Linked DNA regions of Homo sapiens. Changing the gene in region 4 together with the main gene of any one other region gives a genetic interaction. Each region holds a gene or a part of one and is shown on either strand. Other genes may lie near its edges.

Region 1 (4,359 bases), on a different chromosome or scaffold from region 4:
ATACCTTTATAACAGTAACAAGAAATCGTTTTTCGTCCTCTTCATGCATTGCTCCACTAATGGAGCCTATTGCCCAACACAATGTATTCAAATTTTTCCATGACCACTCTGTACCATTCACTTGATTGTGAAGCTTCTCTGTCATTATTCTTTCTGTATCTACATAATCCAGATGAGTAAGATAAACTACAAAGAAAAACATGGTTTCAAATGCAAATAATGAGCAGAATTTTATTGATGAGTAACAATACATTTAGAAAATATTTAGAAACTACAAGTACATTTCCTAAAATGTATTTCCACCCCAGAATAGATTTATAAAGGTAAAGATTAACAGTATTTATTAACTTACCCAATGTTTCCCTCATATTCTTATACAAATTTATGGAATCTGTATCCTTCATGAATTCTCTCACAACTTCTCCTTGATCATTCTCTACAACCAATACTTCCTCTGGTTTAGCCATTCGACTAACCATTAATAAACGGACCTATACTCAACAATATATCAATCAAGAAAAAAATCGTTAGATCACTGAAATCATTAGTGTAGAAGCTTAGTTAAAAACAAACAAAACCAAAAAAACCACAAGCCAGCCATGTGTAGGGATTCATGCCTATAATTCCAACTATTCCGGAGGGCCGAGGCAAAAAGAACTGTTGTGGCCAGGAATTTGAGAGCAGCTTGAGCAACACAAAATGACACCCAATCTCTAAAACAATAAAAATACTGGGGCTTAAAGCACAACAGAAAAAACTATGTAAATATAAATGAAGTAAAACTAAAAAATTTAAAATTTGCTAGGCATGGTGGTGTGTGCCTGCAACCAATTACTTGGGAGGCTGACACAAGAGAATTGCTTTAGTCTAGGAGTTCAAGATTGTAGTGAGCTATGACCACGCCACTGCACTCCAACCTGAGCCACAGAGCAAGACCCTGTCTCCAAAAGAAAAAATTTTTTTTCACTGTAATTCTACAAAAATGGCTTTATAATTATTTAAGTGTGTTTTAATGTGATTTTTTTAACCAACTTCTGTTACAGGAGTTTCCTGTGTCTCATTCCTAGACTCTGGTTTAGTAGATTGGCAGGTGGCCAATGAATTTGCCTAACGAAATCACAACCAATGTTGATACTGAGAGAAGGACCACACTCTTGAGAATCAAGGTTCTAGACTCAACTCCTTTCATGTTCTAGTTTTCCACACTCATGGAGAAGTTGTTGGGTTCTCTTTTTATAGCTAATTTATTTACACAGATTAGAAGTATTTGGATTCAGACCTCAAAACCACAGTATGCAACAGGAAGAACACTCAACCAACCGCTCTGTTACCTTGAATAACATGGGCAAATATAGCTGTCTCCTGGGAGGAACATCAAAATGTTGACTTCCAGAAAGCAACGGAGAGGCAGATGTAGAGAATGGACTCTCTCTATAGAGTTCAGCAGCCAAATGATTCCAGTATTCAAGACAAATTTTAAAGATTTCAGTTTCTTCTACTTCAGATACCAACAACATATAATGAAGGGCCTACACAGAAGACCAAAACTGTTAAAATAATTCTTAAACATTACCAACTTCAAATTGCTTTTCACTTGTTACACCTTAAGGGAAAATAAAAATTCATGTTTTATTCATCACAACTCAGATTTCAATACTTATCAAATAGACAGCAAACTCTGGAGTAACTCTGCTTCTTCTGACATGCCCTAAAGCACTTCAAAAATCTCTCACATAGTAGTTGATCAATATGTATTTTTATCATGTCTCCTAATGGAACGACATTTATTTAAAAGGCCTTGGGTGCCAATAAGTGGTATCACAACCCAAATGTACCATCACAGAGGAGAGAACAAACAAAATACTGAATATTCATACAATGAGAATATTCTTCAGACATGATAAAAAGTGAGGTATTGATACAGGTTACAACATGGAAGAACATTGAAAACACAACACCAAATAAAAGAAACCAGACACAAAAGGTCACATGCATGATTCCCTTTATATGGTATAATCAGAATAGATATATCTACAGAGACAGAAACCAAAATAATGGTTGCCAGAAGTTGGGGAGAGAACAAAGGAGAAAGTGACTGTTTTAGGGGTAAAGGGTCACCTTCGGGTGATGAAAATGTTTTGGATCTAGGTATTAATGGTTGTATAACATTGTATATATACTAATATGCCACTGAATTGTGTGTGTGTGTGTATATATATATATACTTATGTTTATATATATATATACTTAAGTTTATATATATATATAAAGAGAGAGAGAGAGACATTTTCTTCCTTCAGACAGAGTCTTGCTCTGTCACTCAGGCTGGAGTGCAGTACTGTGATCTTGGCTCACTGCAACCTCAGCCTACTGGGCTAAAGCAATTCCTGTGCTTCAGCCTCCTGAGGAGCTGGGATTACAGTCATGTGACACCACGCACAGCTAATTTTTTTGTATTTTTAATAGAGACAGAGATTCACGATGTAGGCCAGGCTGGTCTCGAACTCCTGCCTCAAGTGATCCACCCACCTCCGCCTCCCAAAGTGCTGGGATTACACGATGAATTGTATATCTTTAAATGAACAAATGCATGTTATTTGAATTAAAACTGAAATTTTAAAATAAGGTCTTTGAAATTTTAACCTTAGAAATGATATAATAATTAGTAATTTAATTTTGATTATAAATTTTTAGTCCTAGCTTTATGGAGAACATAAAATCAGAAAACTGGGCTTATAACTGTAATTCAGAATTGAGAATATATATAATGTACTGATCAAATATTAAGTAATAAGAAATCTCAAAAGGTACATACATTTTAGAAAAAGGCACTTTTAAGAGTTATTAGTAGGCAGAGCAGAATTTTAGGAGCAAAAGCTCCACATATCTTACCTCCATAAGAGTTTCCCTGAGATTTAATCTTTTTTCTATAAGTTGATCATGTTCCTTAAGAAAGGTGCAGAGAAACAAACTGAGATTTTGAATGAAGTTCTGTTCATCATCTTTTCCATTTGAGTACGCAAGTCGAATATTGGTATTTAAAGGAAGCATCTGCAAATTTTAAAAGGGACGATCAGTTCGCATTTTATAAAACAACTAAAGACACTTAATATTTTATTATTATTTTTTTGAGACAAGGTATCACTCTGTCCAGGCTGGAGTGCAGTGGTATGACCAAAGCTCACTGCAGCCTCCACCTCCTAGGCCCAATCAGTCCTCCTCAGCCCCTCCCGAGTAGCTGGAACCACAGGTATGTGCCATCGCACTAAGCTTATTTTTAACATTTTTGTAGAGACGGTATCTTGTTATGTTGTCCAGGCTGGTCTCAAACTCCTGGCTCAAGCAATCCTCCCACCTTAGCCTCCCAAAGTGCTGGGATTAAAGGTCTGAGCTATTGCACTCAGCCAACACTATTATTTTTAAGCCCTAATATCCCAACACCCTTTTGCTAATATTAAACCACATACAGAACTCCTAGGTCCAGTATACCTATTCTTATATCTCTAGGACTTAGATTTTGACTCTTCTCAAATAAATTAAAGGCCGCTATCACAGCCTTTAAATTTTTCTAGTATTTCTCACTGACATTGAAAAATGTAAAAATAATCAATTCATTCATTCAGATCACAAACATACATAGTAATCTATCTTTCCTTGTTTTTTAAAAGAGACAGGGATTTACCCTGTCATCCAGGCTGGAGTGCAATAGTGTGACCATAGCTCATTTTAACTTTGTATTAATAGGCTCAAGCGATCCTATTGCCTCAGCCTCCAGAGTAGCTGGAACTACAGGTGTGCAACACCACAGCTAGCTATTTTTTAAATCTTTCGTAGGTATGGTCTGGTTATGTTGTCCTGGCTGGTCTCGAACTCCTGGCATCAACTGGTCCTCCCATTCTGGCCTCCCAAAGTTCTGGGATTACAGTATTAACCACCATGCCTGGCCATGAACACAGTATTATGAATAACCTTCTAGATCATTTAATAGATAACCAATCAAACTAGGGCTGAAAAGAATTCCTTCAGACACAATGTTAGGAACAAGTCCCAGGTTTCCCACTGTCTGGTCAGGTATCTCCCAAAAGACCAAGCTCCTAAAGTGTGCAGAAATAAATTACCACAACACACCCCAAACCTGAATTTTAAGAAATTTTTGGAAACATCATAAAAATTTGTAGCTTACTACAAATTTTATGTAATAAACAAAAGATTATGGCTTATCTTTGATACGTCGTTCTAAAATAACTCATTTGGAATTTGGTATTTTCTAAGGCACTAAAATTATTCAGCCAATTTTCAAGATAGTATTATATTACCTGCTTTAGTTGCATCATTGTCAGAGTAAATAGTGTTACAAAT
Region 2 (4,117 bases), on a different chromosome or scaffold from region 4:
ACAGTAGGAGGCATAACTTAAAGTGGTAATGGCTACTGAACATGAAGGAAGTAAATCTAGTTTTCTCGTGGTTCTTGACAGTGATAGTTTTGCAAAGGTGCTATTACTGCTAGCTTATCACCTGATAAGCATTTAATTGAACTTCAAATACTTGGTCTAGAAATATTTACTGAGCACCAAGCAGCTAATATGTTTTTTATTTACTGTTTCACACATGGAGTGGGTACCTGAAGCTCTGAGATTTTTATCAAACTATCTGATTTTAATCTATCTGTAAAAACACAGTTTAAAGTATGTCTGAATATCAGCTCACTAATGGTGTCTGGGTTGGAATAATTATTAACAGTATTACCTTGGTCCTCAAGCATTGATAATAGCTCAGAAATGGGAAGATGGAAGCAGCAGAAATTTATTTGCGTTGCTGGGAGGAACCCTGGAACCACATGGAACAGTGTTTCTAGGAGCGCGACTCACAGAGCAGGGGTCTAGAAGACTTGTGTCCCTCTGAGAGCCAGAGTCCTTTTTGTGTGTGGAAACCTCTCAGGAGTGTTTGAGTCAAGCTGTTTAACTTTTATTTTATTTGTATTAGTTTCCAGCACACACAGCATTGAAGTTACTGGTTTTGGGGGGTTTTTTTGTTTGTTTGTTTGTTTGTTTTTGAGTAAAATTGTTTAACTTTGTTTAGCCCTCCCCTCTTCCCCGCACTCCCCATCCCACCCCTTTTTTCCTTCGTGACATTTAGCAACACCCTACATAGTTCATACTTTGGGAATTACTGTTAGGGTGTAAAAAAGTATATCTTTTCTACAAATGTTTACAGAGCACTTACAACTAGTTAATAAACTAAGCCAAATAATGTCTAGGGGTGCAAAAAGAAAATGTGAGGTACAGTGGTCGCCTGAAGAAGCACAGAAAGCATTACAGAATTGACCATAACCTGCGTGAAATAGTCAGAGAGCAGGAGACTCTGCCGTGGAGCCTGCGGGTGCTTTCGTGTGGAGTAGGGCTGTGGAGATTCAGAAAAGGGGACTTCACTGTGAACCGTAGCTGCGAAGAGAGCACTTGGGTTGGTGGCATCTAACCATCACTTCACCTGACAAAGGGTAATTTTTCTTTCTTTTTTTTTTTTTTTTCTTGAGACAGAGTCTCGCTTTGTCACCCAGGCTGGAGTATGGTGGCGCAGTCTCGGCTCGCTGCAACCTCTGCCTCCCGAGTTCAAGCAATTCTCCTGCCTCAGTCTCCCAAGTAGCTGGGATTACAGACGCATGCCACCATGCTCAGCTAATTTTTTTGAATTTTTAGTAGAGATAGGGTTTCACCACGTTGGCCAGGCTGGTTTCGAACTCCTGACCTCAAGTGATCTGCCCGCCTCGGCCTCCCAAAGTGCTGGGATTACAGGCATGAGCCACCCCACCTTGCCAAAGGGTAATTTATCCTTATTGGATGGGTGGAATCTGATGGGTAGAAAGGAAAAGGGTGTTTCAGGCAAGAAATTGGGATACTGGCTTATAATGTCATACATGGACACTGTGACAGGATTTGTGAATGCCTGAATCACCAGGCTCATAGGACACACAGTCTCTGGGGGAGCTTATACTGGTGGCTGGTCTCAAACGAAGTGTGCTGAGACTTACTGGCTTCATTCTCAGGGCCCACCTCCCTAACAATTCTCAAGTGGCTACTATATGCTGTCTGTAGCATACAGAAGGGAACTAGGACAGCCAGTTCTGCTGGCACCAGATGGTGGTGGATTTGGTTGTTTAGCTTAAAAGTTAAATTCCAGCTGGGTGTTGTGGTGCACACCTGTAAGCCCAGGAGGAGCACTTGAGCCCAGGAGTTTGAGACTAGCCTGGGCAACACAGCAAGACCCTGTCTCAAAAAAAAGAACTTCCAATGGATCATTAATAGAAGTATAACTATCACCCGGGTGCGGTGGTTCATGCCTATAATCCCAGTACTTTGGGAGGCCCAGGCAGGCGGATCACCTGAGGTCAAGAGTTTGAGACCAGCTTGACCGACATGGAGAAACCCCATCTGTACTAAAAATACAAAATAAGCCAGGCATGGTAGCGCATGCCTGTAATCCCAGCTACTCGGGAGGCAGGAGAATCTCTTGAACCTGAGAGGCAGAGGTTGCAGTGAGCCGATATCATGCCACTGCACTCCAGCCTGGGCAACAAGAGCGAAACTCCGTCTCAAAAAAAAAAGAAGTATAATTATCACTACCTTCATTCAGAAGGTCTGTGATGTACAAGGACAGCATTCAAAAAACTTCATAATTCTGATTTCAGACTCTTCTCTGCTAAAAGCCATAATCAGTGGAGGGTGAACCTAACACCTGAGGACTTTTTCTACCCAGAGCTGATATGAAAATTCCTCCAAGGAATAACATTTCAACCTTGTGTGTGACACATTCCGAAGTTAATTTTCTTTATCAGTTTTTGTCCAAACACATTTTGTCACGAGGCTTTTGACCTGTTCTTATTCCTATGAGTTTATTTTGTTAATGCAATTTGCCTGAAAATCCATGTTTCAATTCTGATAAGCACCAAATTTTTTCAATAATTATTAACTCACATTTGAAAATGGCTTTACAGATTTAAAAATTTTTTTTTTTTTTTTTGCAAATGGAGTCTCAGGCTGGTCTTGAACTCAGCTACTCAAGTGATCCTTCCACCTCAGCCTCTTGAGTAGCTGAGATTACAGCTATGTCCAGCTTAAAACTTTGAAATACATAAAGAGTAACATAAAACTTTCCTTCTCTTTTCCCCTTTAGGGTAGGTAGGGCAGGCGTTAAAGGAATAGAGTGCGTAGAGAATTAGATGCTAACACCAACAGTGGCTTTTTGGTGTTTGAATTTTCTGTTAATTGATTTCTTTTCCCATAGAAATTTTGGACGGTGTGGAACTTGGAGAGCCAGCCCATAAGAAAACGGGGACCACAGTGCCAGAATCTATTCATTCTTTCAGTAAGTTCAGCCTCTGAGGAACCGCACCAGTGACTAGCTCATTAAGAAAATAGCAGCTGTGTTATACCCTGAGAGGGGTCAACAAGATGAAGCAACAAAACTGCCTTTGAGCAGAAAAGGTTCCATGAATTTCTCATTATATTCTGAGGACAAAGACGGACATAGAGGAAGGATTGCTTAACACTTACAAAAGTGAATATTTGAGAAAAACAGGGCACCCATTGAACCTGTTGTATTGCTCCCATTCTTACAGTTATTTCTACTTTTGTGTATTCCAGTTGGAGACGGTTTGGTGAAACCAGAGGCCCTAAATAAGAAAGCTATCCAGATTATTAACAGGGTTCGAGATAAGCTCACTGGTGAGTGTGTCATGTGTTTACTTAAAAGGGACATAAAATCTGAGCACACTTTCCTCTCTGAGTGGTGGTCAGCCCCATGTCCAGTGGTGTTAGTGACGAGCTTTGGCACCATGCAGCTGACAAAGAGTGTCTTTGAGGTCATCAGTTAAACATTGTCTCTGATTCTTCTTTCTGATGACTGATAACAGTACTTAATGTTAGTTTAATCTCATTTAACTCAGGAGGTGAATAAATTTCTTTTGGGTCCAAAATCAGCCAAATTCAGAGAAGTGTTTTTTAATCATGTCTTTTTTTTGTTTGTTTGAGACAGTTTTGCTCTTATTGCCCAGTCTGGAGTTCAGTGGCTCCATCTTGGCTCACTGCAACCTCTGCCTCCCAGGTTCAAACAATTCTCCTGCCTCAGCCTCCCGAGTAGCTGGGATTACAGGTGCACGCCCAGCTAATTTTTTGTGTTTTTAGTAGAGATGGGGTTTCACCATGTTGGGCAGGCTGGTCTCAAACTCCTGACCTCAAGTGATTCACCCACCGCACCCGGCCGAATTTTTCTTTTTTTCTTTTCTTTTTTTTTTTTTTTTTTGAGACAGGGTCTTGCTCTGTCACCCAGGCTGGAGTGCAGTGGTGCGATCTTGGCCCACTGCAACCTCCACCTTCCAGGTTCAAGTGATTCTCCTGCCTCAGGCTCCCAAGTAGCTGGGACTACAGGCATGTGCCACCACACTCGGCTAATTTTGTATTTTTAGTAAAGACAGGGTTTCACCATGTTGGCCAGGCTGGTGTTGAACTCCTGACC
Region 3 (4,359 bases), on a different chromosome or scaffold from region 4:
TGTATCACCTGAGGTCAGAAGTTCAAGACCAGCCTGACCAACATGGTGAAACCCCGTCTCTACTAAATATACAAAAATTAGCCGGGCATGGTGGTGGGCGTCTGTAATCCCAGCTACTCAGGAGGCTGAAGCAGGAGAATTGCTTGAACCTGGGAGGCGGAGGTTGCAGTGAACCGAGATTGCGCCATTGTGCTCCAGCCTGGGCAACGAGCAAAACTTCGTCTCAGAACATACAAACATCTTAAGATCAATTCAGTCAGGGTTTTTTTTTTGTTGTTGTTTTTTGTTTTTTGTTTTTTTGTTTTTTTTTATGAGATGGAGTCTCGCTCTGTTGCCTGGGCTGGAGTGCAGTAGGGCAATCTCAGCTCACTGCAACCTCCGCCTCCCAGGTCCAAGCTATTCTCCTGCCTCAGCCTCCGGAGTAGCTGGGATTACAGGTGTCCTCCACCACGCCTGGCCAGTTTTTTTGTATTTTTAGTAGAGACGGGGTTTCACCATGTTGGTCAGGCTGGTCTCGAACTCCTGACCTCGTGATCCACCTGCCTTAGCCTCCCAAAGTGCTGGGATTACAGGCATGAGCCACCACGCCTGGCCTATTTAGTGAGTTTTAGCAATTGTATGTACCCATGTCACCAGCATCCAAAATAAGATACAGAGCATTTCTGTTCTCTCAGAAAGTTCCCTTTTACCGCTTTCTAGTCCACTCCCCTCTCCCACAATTGCCTTTATTTGGATTTCTTAGTAATGTAGTCAGATGGGATATAGTTCGTATACTGTCTTTTGTTTAACATAAATGTTTTTGAGATTTATTATTTATGTTGTATATGTTAATAGTACATTCTTTTTATTTATTTTTTTAAATTTGAAACAGGGTCTTGCTCTGTTACCCAGGCTGGAGTGTGCAATGGCAGGATCACAGCTTCCTGTAGCCTCATCCTTCTGGGCTCAAGTAATCCTCCTACCTCAGGTTCCCAAGGAGTTGGGACTACAGTCATGCACCACCATGCCTGGCTAATTTTTAAATTTTTTTGTAAAGATGGGATCTTCCTATGTTGCCCAGGCTGATAATTTTTACATTTTTGTAGGGACGGGGTCTCCCTTTGTTGCCCAGGCTGGTATCAAACTCCTGGGCTCAAGCGATCCTCCTGCCTTGGCCTCCCAAAGTGCTGTGATTACAGGTGTGATCCACCCATGCCTGGCCTCATTCTTCTTCTTCTTGTTTTTTTTTGAGACGGAGTCTCGCTCTGTCGCCCAGGCTGGAGTGCAGTGGCGGGATCTCGGCTCACTGCAAGCTCCGCCTCCCGGGTTCACGCCATTCTCCTGCCTCAGCCTCCCAAGTAGCTGGGACTACAGGCGCCCGCCACTACGCCCGGCTAATTTTTTGTATTTTTTAGTAGAGACGGGGTTTCACCGTTTTAGCCGGGATGGTCTCGATCTCCTGACCTCATGATCCGCCCGCCTCGGCCTCCCAAAGTGCTGGGATTACAGGCGTGAGCCACCGCGCCCGGCCTTTTCTTCTTATTTTTTAACTGCTGAATAGTATTTCTCAGTTGACACATATATATTTTTTTTTATTAAAAATTTTTTTAGGCTGGGCGCAGTGGATCATGCCTGTAATCCCAGGAACTTTGGGAGGCCGAGGCGGGCGGATCACGAGGTCAGGAGATCGAGACCATCCTGGCTAACATGGTGAAACCCCGTCTCTACTGAAAATACAAAAAATTAGCCGGGCGTGGTGGCGGGTGCCTATAGTCCCAGCTACTCGGGAGGCTGAGGCAGGAGAATGGCGTGAACCCGGGAGGCGGAGCTTGCAGTGAGCAGAGATCGCGCCACTGCGCTCCAGCCTGGGCAACAGTGAGACTCCGTCTCAAAAAAAAAAAAAAAAATTTTTTTTAGAGGCTGGGCGTGATGGCTCACGCCTGTAATCCCAGCACTTTGGGAGGCCGAGGCGGGTGGATCATGAGGTCAGGAGACCGAGACCATCCTGGCCAACATGGTGAAACCCCATCTCTACTAAAAATACAAAAAATTACCTGGGTGTGGTGGCATGCACGTGTAGTCCCAGCTACTCGGGAGGCTGAGGCAGGAGAATCACTTGAACCCAGGAGGCGGAGGTTGGAGTGAGCCAAGATCGAACCACTGTACTCCAGCCTGGTTGACAGAGCGAGACTCTGTCTCAAAAAAAACAAAATGTGTAGAGTCAGGATCCTTGCTTTGTTGCCCAGGCTGGAGTGCAGTGGCACAATAGTGGCTCACTGCAGCTTTGACCTCCTTGGCTCAAGCCATCCTCCTGCACCTGTAGCTTGGACTACAGGTGCGCACCAAAACACCCGGCCAATTTTTGCATTTTGTGTAGAGACACGGTTTCGCCATGTTGCTCAGGCTCATCTTGAACTCTTGAGCTCAATCTACCCACCTTGGCCTCCCAGAGTGTTGGGATTATAGGCGTGAGCCATGGAGCTCACCCCTAAACCACTGCTACATAATATTCCATATGTACTTTTTTTTTTTTTTTTGAGATGAAGTCTTGCTCTGTCGCCCAGGCTGGAGAGCAGTGGCACGATCTTGGCTCACTGCAACCTCCTCCTGTCCCCGCCGCTGGGTTCAAGTGATTCTCCTGCCTCAGCCTCCCAAGTAGCTGGGATTACAGGCATGTACCACCACACCTGGCCCATTTTTTTATTTTTAGTAGAGACAGGGTTTCATCATGTTGGCCAGGCTGGTCTCAAACTCCTGACCTCAAGTGATCTGCCCGCCTCGGCCTCCCAAAGTGCTGGGATCACAGGCGTGAGCCACTGTGCCTGGCCCAGCCCATATGTACTTTAATTTAGGTTGTTTGTAATTTTTTACTGTTATAATCAATGTTTCACTGAATATCCTTATACCTACCTGTCTGCATATCTGGAAGTATTTCTCTAGGGTGGATACCTCACAATGGAATATCTGATTTGAAGAATATACACATACTAAATTATAGTAGATCCTGCAAATTTCCCCCTGAAAATGATTGGATTAGGTTATACCCCATCCGTAATGTCTGACAGTATTTCCCCATACCTTTGCCAACGCTGGATATAATTTTTTTTTTTTTTTTTGAGATGGAGTCTCGCTGTGTCGCCCAGGCTGGAGTGCAGTGGTGCAATCTTGGCTCACTGCAAGCTGCACCTCCTGGATTCACGCCATTCTCCTGCCTCAGCCTCCCAAGTAGCTGGGACTACAGGTGCCCACGACCACGCCTGGCTAATTTTTGTATTTTTAGTAGAGATGCGTTTCATCTTGTTAGCCAGGATGGTCTCGATCTCCTGACCTCGTGATCCGCCCACCTCGGCCTCCCAAAGTGCTGAGATTATAGGCGTGAGCCACCGCGCCTGGCCAGAATCTTTTAAAACTTTTTCCAGAGGCAAATAATTATATCATATTATAATGTGCATTTTCTTTTCTTTCTTTTTTTTTTGAGATGGAGTCTCCCTCTGTCGCCCAGGCTGGAGTGTAGTGGCATAATCTTGGCTCACTGCAACCTCTGCCTCCCGGGTTCAAGCAATTCTCCTGCCTCAGCCTCCCGAGTAGCTGGGATTACAGGCATGCGCCACCATGCCCAGCTAATTTTTGTATTTTTAGTAGATACGGGGATTCTCCATGTTAGCGAGGCTGTTCTCAAGCTCCTGACCTCATGTGGTCCACCCGCCTTGGACTCCCAAAGTGCTGGGATTACAGGCGTAAGCCACTGCGCCCGGCCTATGTATTTATGAATACATAATTTATGTATTCATAAATACACAAATAAATATATAATTTGCCTATTTTTCTATTTTTTTTTTTTGTTACGGCTTTTTTTTTTTTTTTTGTGAGACAGAGTCTCACTCCTTCATCCAGACTGGAGTGCAGCTGTGTGATCTCGGCTTATTGCAACCTTAGCTTCCCCGGTTCCAGCCATTCTCCTGCCTCAGCCTCCAAGTAGCTGGGACTATGGGCGGGTGCCACCACGCCCGGCTAATCTTTGTATTTTTAGTAGAGACAGGGTTTCTCCATGTTGGCCAGGCGGGTCTCGAACCTAATATTTAAATCTTTGTTTTTTTTTTTTTTGAGATGGAGTCTCGCTCTTCTGCCCAGGCCGGACTGCAGTGGCAGTATCTCGGTTCACTGCAAGCTCCACCTCCCGGGTTCATGCCATTCTCCTGCCTCAGCCTCCTGAGTAGCTGGGATTACAGGCGCCCGCCACTGCGCCTGGCTAATTTTTTGTATTTTTAGTAGAGATGGGGTTTCACGAAAGTGTTAGCCAGGATGGTCTCGATCTCCTGACCTCGTGATCCGCCCGCCTCGGCCTCCCAAAGTGCTGGGATTACAGACGTGAGCCACCGC
Region 4 (5,069 bases):
CATATGACATTTAAAGGGATTCCTTTAAATAGCCAAAACAATCTTGAAAAAGAACAAATTTTTGGAAGTCTCACACACTTTCTGATTTCAAAACTTACTACAAAGGCACAGTAATCAAAACAGTGTAGTGATCAAAACAGTGGCGTAAAGAAAAACATACAGAGCAATGGAATAGAGAAAAATAACTCTTGCATATATGGTCAAATGATTTCTGACAAAAGCACCAAGACCATTCAATGGGGAAAGATAATCTTTTCAACATACTGGATAACCACATGCAAAAGAATAAAATTGGACCCTTACCTCATACCATATACAAAAACTAAGTCAAAATGGATCAAAGACCTAAACCTAAGAGCTAAAACTCTAAAACTCTTAGACAAAAACAAAAGGAGAAAGCTTCATGGCATTGGACTTGGCAACGACTCCTTAGATACAATACTAAAAGCACAGGCAACAAAAGTAAAAATAGATAAGCCTGACTACATCAAAATTAAAACTTCTGTGCATCAAAGAACACAATTAACAGAGTGAAGAGACAAACTAAAAAATGAGAGAAAATTTTACAAATCACATATCTGATAAGTATTTAATGTTCTGAATAAATAAAAAAACTCCTACAACTCAATAACAAAAAATAAACAACCCAATTTTAAAAATTAGCCAAGGACATGAACAGACATTTCTCCAAATAATAAAGTAGCCAAAAAGCACATGAAAAGATGCTCAACATCACTAATCATTAGGAAAACATAAATCAAAACCACATTGTTGCCAGGCGTGGTGGCCCATGCCTATAATCCTAGAACTTTGGGAGGCTGGGGCAAAAAGACTGCTTGAGGCCAGGAGTTTGAGTCCAGCCCGGGCAAGAGAGCAAGACCTGTCTCTACAAAAATATATATATTTTTTAAGCCAGGTGTGGTGGTACACACCTCTAGTCCCACCTATGTAGGAAACTGAGGCAAGAGGATCCCCTGAGCCCAGGAGTTCAAGGCTGCAGTGAGCTGTGATTGTATCACTGCCTAGGTGACAGAGCAAGACCCAATCTCAAAAACAAAAACAAAAAAACCACACACAATGAAATACCACCTTAGAACTATTAGGATGGCTATTATAAAAAAAAAAAAAAACAGAAAATAACAAATATTGACAAAGATCTGGAGAAAGTGGAAACCTTGTGCACTGTTGGTGGCAATGTAAAATGGTGCAGCCACTGTGGAATACACTATGGTGGCTTGTCGAAAAAGTAAAAATAGATATACCATATGCTACAGAATTCCACTTCTCAGTACATACACCAAATAACTGAAATCAGGGATATTTCGTACATCCATGGTCATTGCAGCATTATTCACAATAGCCAAAAGTGGGAAGAAATCCAAGTATCCATTGATGGATGGCTTATTAAACAAAATGTGGTATAGACATATCACAGAATATTATTCAGCCTTCAGTAGGAAGGAAATCACATCACGTGGTACAACAGGAATGCACCTTGAGCATATTATGCTAAGTCAAATAAGCCAGCTACGAAAAGACAAATACTGTATGATTCCACTTATATGAGGTGGTCAAATTCATAGAAACCAAAAGCAGAATGGTAGTTGCCAGGGGCTGGGGGGAAGGAGGGAACAGAGAGTTGTTTAAGGGGTACAGAATTTCAGTTTTACAAGATGAAAAAGTTCTGGGGATTGGTTGTACAACAATGTAAATATCTTAATACTACTGAACTGTACTCTTACAAATAGTTAAAAGGGTCTTAATCTTGTCTTAGTCTCAAGACTCTAAACTCCAAAGTCGCATCCAAATATTATCTAAATCAGATATAGGTAAGACTCAAGGTGTGGGTCATCCTGAGGCAAAATTCCTAACTATGAACATGTGAAACCAGACAAGTTATGTGCTTCCAAAATACAGCCGTGAGACAGGCATAAGATAGACATTCCTATTCTAAAAGGAAGACGTAAGAAAGAAAGGGTAACAACTCCCAAGTAAGTCCAAAACTTAGCAAGGTAAATTCTATTAGATTTTAGAATCTAATAAAAACACACACACAATGAAACACCACCTATTAGGGTGGCTACTAAAAATCAATAATCTTCTTTGCCTAGATGCATTGCCTTCTAGATTCACAGAGGTGGTGGTCTCACCTTCAGGACCCACTGAAGCGGTAGTTCTAACTTCTAGGACCTACTGGGGCAGCAGCCCCACCCCAATAGCTCTCCTGGGCAGAGGGTCAACACCTCAAAGGTTCCAGGGGGCTGTAGCCCCAAGGATCAGGCAGCTGTACCTCCAAGACTCTGGGTGGTCCCACCTCCAAGGCCTCTGACAAAGGCCATGTGGTGTTTAAACTGAGGCAATGGCCCCATCCTTTGAAACCAAAGAGATAGTTCTAAACATCTCTGAACCCCTTTTGGGGTCATTCTTCCCTTTTCTTGAAGAATAGCTCAAATTCACAGCCAAATAGCTCTGTGGTCTGGTCCTGTAGGATATCAGAAGTCAGACAGGCTTCTTTCATTCTGCCCCTTCTAGTTCAAACTGGTGGTGACTTTGCTGATGTAATCTCATCTCTATTCCTGGCTTCTGCCAAGATAGCTTGTTAGTTGGTGAGTCGCATCCACAATCTCTTCATCAAATGGTTGTTCAGCCACACTCTTAGTGTTCTCTTCAAAACAAGCTTTCTCATTTTTTGCAATATGGATAAGCTGAGAATTTTCCAAATCTTCAGGTTCCGGTTCCTTTTTGCTTAACAAGTCCTTCTTCATTTCCTCTTTCTCTCTTTTTCTATTCTGTTGTAAGCAGTCGGGAGGAACCAAGGCATTTCTTCAATACTTTGTACTTAGAAATCTTCTCAGCTGAATAAACAATTTCATCACTCACAAGTTCTACCTTCCACTAGAACACACACAGATCAGCCAATTTCTTTGCCATTTTATTATATGGATCACCTTTCCTCCAGTTTCCAATGACATCTTACTCATTTCCATCTGAGACCTTACAAAAATCACCCTTAACGTCCATATTTCTACCAGGTACCTCAAAACTCTTCTAGCCTCTACCTTTACATAGTTCCAAAGGCACGTTCACATTTTTAGGTATTTGCTACAGCAGCACCCCACTTCTTGGTACCAAAATCTATTTTGGTCTGCTCAGGCTACCATAACAAAATACCATAGACTGGGTGGCTTGTACAATAAAAATGTATTTTCTCACAGTTCTGGAGGCTGGCAAATTCAAGATCAAAGTGCCAGCCAGTTTGGTTCCTGATAAGGGCTCTCTTCCTGGCTTGTAGACAGCAGATTTCTTGCTGTGTCCTCACATATGGCCTTTCCTCAGTATGTGCACACAGGGAGAGAGAGATCTCTCTTTTTGCCTCTTCTTATAAGGTCACCAATCCTACTGAATTACGACCTCACCCTTATGGCCTCATTTAACCTCAATTTCCTCCAAAAGTCCTAACTCCAAATAAATTCACAATGGTGTTAAGGCTTCAACATACGAATTATGAGGGGGCGCAATTTAGCCCATAGCAGATGGGAAATTTTATACTATGTATATTTTGCCACAATTTTTTTTAAGTAGAAATTATTACAGATGTTAGGTGGACACAAGCAACAGGGGGAAAAACAAGATAGAAACATCTAAATTGGATAAACCAATATCCAATACAATGGAATATACACAATGGAATACTATTTAGCTATATAAAGAAATGAGCTATCAAGCTATGAAAAGAAATGAAAGAACCTTAAATGCATATTGCTAAGTGAAAGAAGTCCACCTAAAAAGGCTACATACTGCAATGATTCTAACCATATATGTAATATCCTGGAAAAGGCAAAACTATAGAGACAATAAAAAGATCAGTGGTTGTCTGGGGTTAGGGGTGGGTAGGAGGGTAAGAATCAATACATATAACACAGGGGATTTTAGGATAGAGAAACTATTCCATGTGATATTCGAATATTTGCCAAGGTCACAGAGTTAGCTGGGCCAAGACTTAAACTCAAGTCTCTGACTCCCAAGTTCATGCTCTTTCCATTAATCTAAGTTGCTTCTTTTGATATGGAATATAACAAAGACTACATTGACTATGAAAATATAAACTTAGGGGAGGAAAAGGCAACTGGGAAAGAAAAAATATATCCTTAGTCTGTCAATCAGAGAAAACTGTTAGCTTGAGCAGCTTCAACTTGGTTAATCAGTATCCCTCTCTTCTACCATTAAGAAAGAATACGTACTTGCAAAAGAATTAAGGAATCTATCCTCTCTTCCAAAGATGTCCGACGGCTTTACGATAATGGCTTCCGGAAATGCATCTCTCACTACTTTCTCTCCAACAGCCTAAACAATAACCAAACAAACCTGTTTTGAGTTTAGAGACAAGTGAATAAAGCATCCATTCTTTCCACTATTAAGACATGACTTGTATTTCAAAGGCGATATTTTCCTCCAGATAAAGGTAATCATGTAATTCATAAAACTCAGTTACACAGAACTTTTAAAAAATATAATCCACAAAAATGTCCTGCACCTTACAGATTGGGTTGGGTCTCTTCCAATTTTTTTATTTTAAGGGAAGCTTACATTGAAGAAGGAGAAAAATCAAAGTAGAATTTCTTCAGCCTCCATTTTTCCTTCTATTTACAGATTCTCTGGTTTGTGTCAACCATCTAGCAGCCTGTTAGAAAAAGGACAGTATGGTGGCAGCAGGCTGCAATAATGGAAGTGTCACCAGTACCTACATATCCAAAGGAGGTTGGGGATAGAGTCACTAATCCTCCTAATCTCAATTGCTGTACCATCCTTACTTGTTATCATCTACTAGCCTCCTAGGCAAGTCTTCTTGTTCGATGAAGATATCAGCACCTAATTCAGTCTTCCTTTCTACTTCCACCACCACTGGAGGTGACATGATGTCCAAGTGGGCTTGGACTTCTCAGGTTCTTGAGCTGCTCAACTCCAACGACCTCCTCTTCCTTCCACCTCTACCACTCTTAACTTGGTTACACCACCTACTGTATCAACATCTGGAATTGCTCTTCTTCTGAGGTATTAAATGAAGACAT

What was found. Genes that interact genetically often act in the same process or in processes that back each other up.
Region 1: changes in NDUFA9 (region 4) and XPO1 together harm fitness more than expected from each alone (negative genetic interaction), as found in Homo sapiens cells (one large-scale study listed by BioGRID).
Region 2: changes in NDUFA9 (region 4) and MTOR together harm fitness more than expected from each alone (negative genetic interaction), as found in Homo sapiens cells (one large-scale study listed by BioGRID).
Region 3: changes in NDUFA9 (region 4) and MED24 together harm fitness more than expected from each alone (negative genetic interaction), as found in Homo sapiens cells (one large-scale study listed by BioGRID).

The regions. Positions count from the first base shown.
Region 1 is NC_000002.12:61,492,563-61,496,921, forward strand, and holds part of XPO1 (exportin-1), read right to left. Parts: coding exon 4,317-4,359; intron 3,052-4,316; coding exon 2,893-3,051; intron 1,530-2,892; coding exon 1,332-1,529; intron 492-1,331; coding exon 353-491; intron 187-352; coding exon 5-186; intron 1-4. UniProt on the Homo sapiens protein: Mediates the nuclear export of cellular proteins (cargos) bearing a leucine-rich nuclear export signal (NES) and of RNAs.
Region 2 is NC_000001.11:11,108,500-11,112,616, reverse strand, and holds part of MTOR (serine/threonine-protein kinase mTOR), read left to right. Parts: intron 1-2,887; coding exon 2,888-2,968; intron 2,969-3,246; coding exon 3,247-3,327; intron 3,328-4,117. UniProt on the Homo sapiens protein: Serine/threonine protein kinase which is a central regulator of cellular metabolism, growth and survival in response to hormones, growth factors, nutrients, energy and stress signals.
Region 3 is NC_000017.11:40,043,615-40,047,973, reverse strand, and holds part of MED24 (mediator of RNA polymerase II transcription subunit 24), read left to right. Parts: intron 1-4,359. UniProt on the Homo sapiens protein: Component of the Mediator complex, a coactivator involved in the regulated transcription of nearly all RNA polymerase II-dependent genes.
Region 4 is NC_000012.12:4,661,808-4,666,876, reverse strand, and holds part of NDUFA9 (NADH dehydrogenase [ubiquinone] 1 alpha subcomplex subunit 9, mitochondrial precursor), read right to left. Parts: intron 4,345-5,069; coding exon 4,242-4,344; intron 1-4,241. UniProt on the Homo sapiens protein: Accessory subunit of the mitochondrial membrane respiratory chain NADH dehydrogenase (Complex I), that is believed not to be involved in catalysis. Required for proper complex I assembly.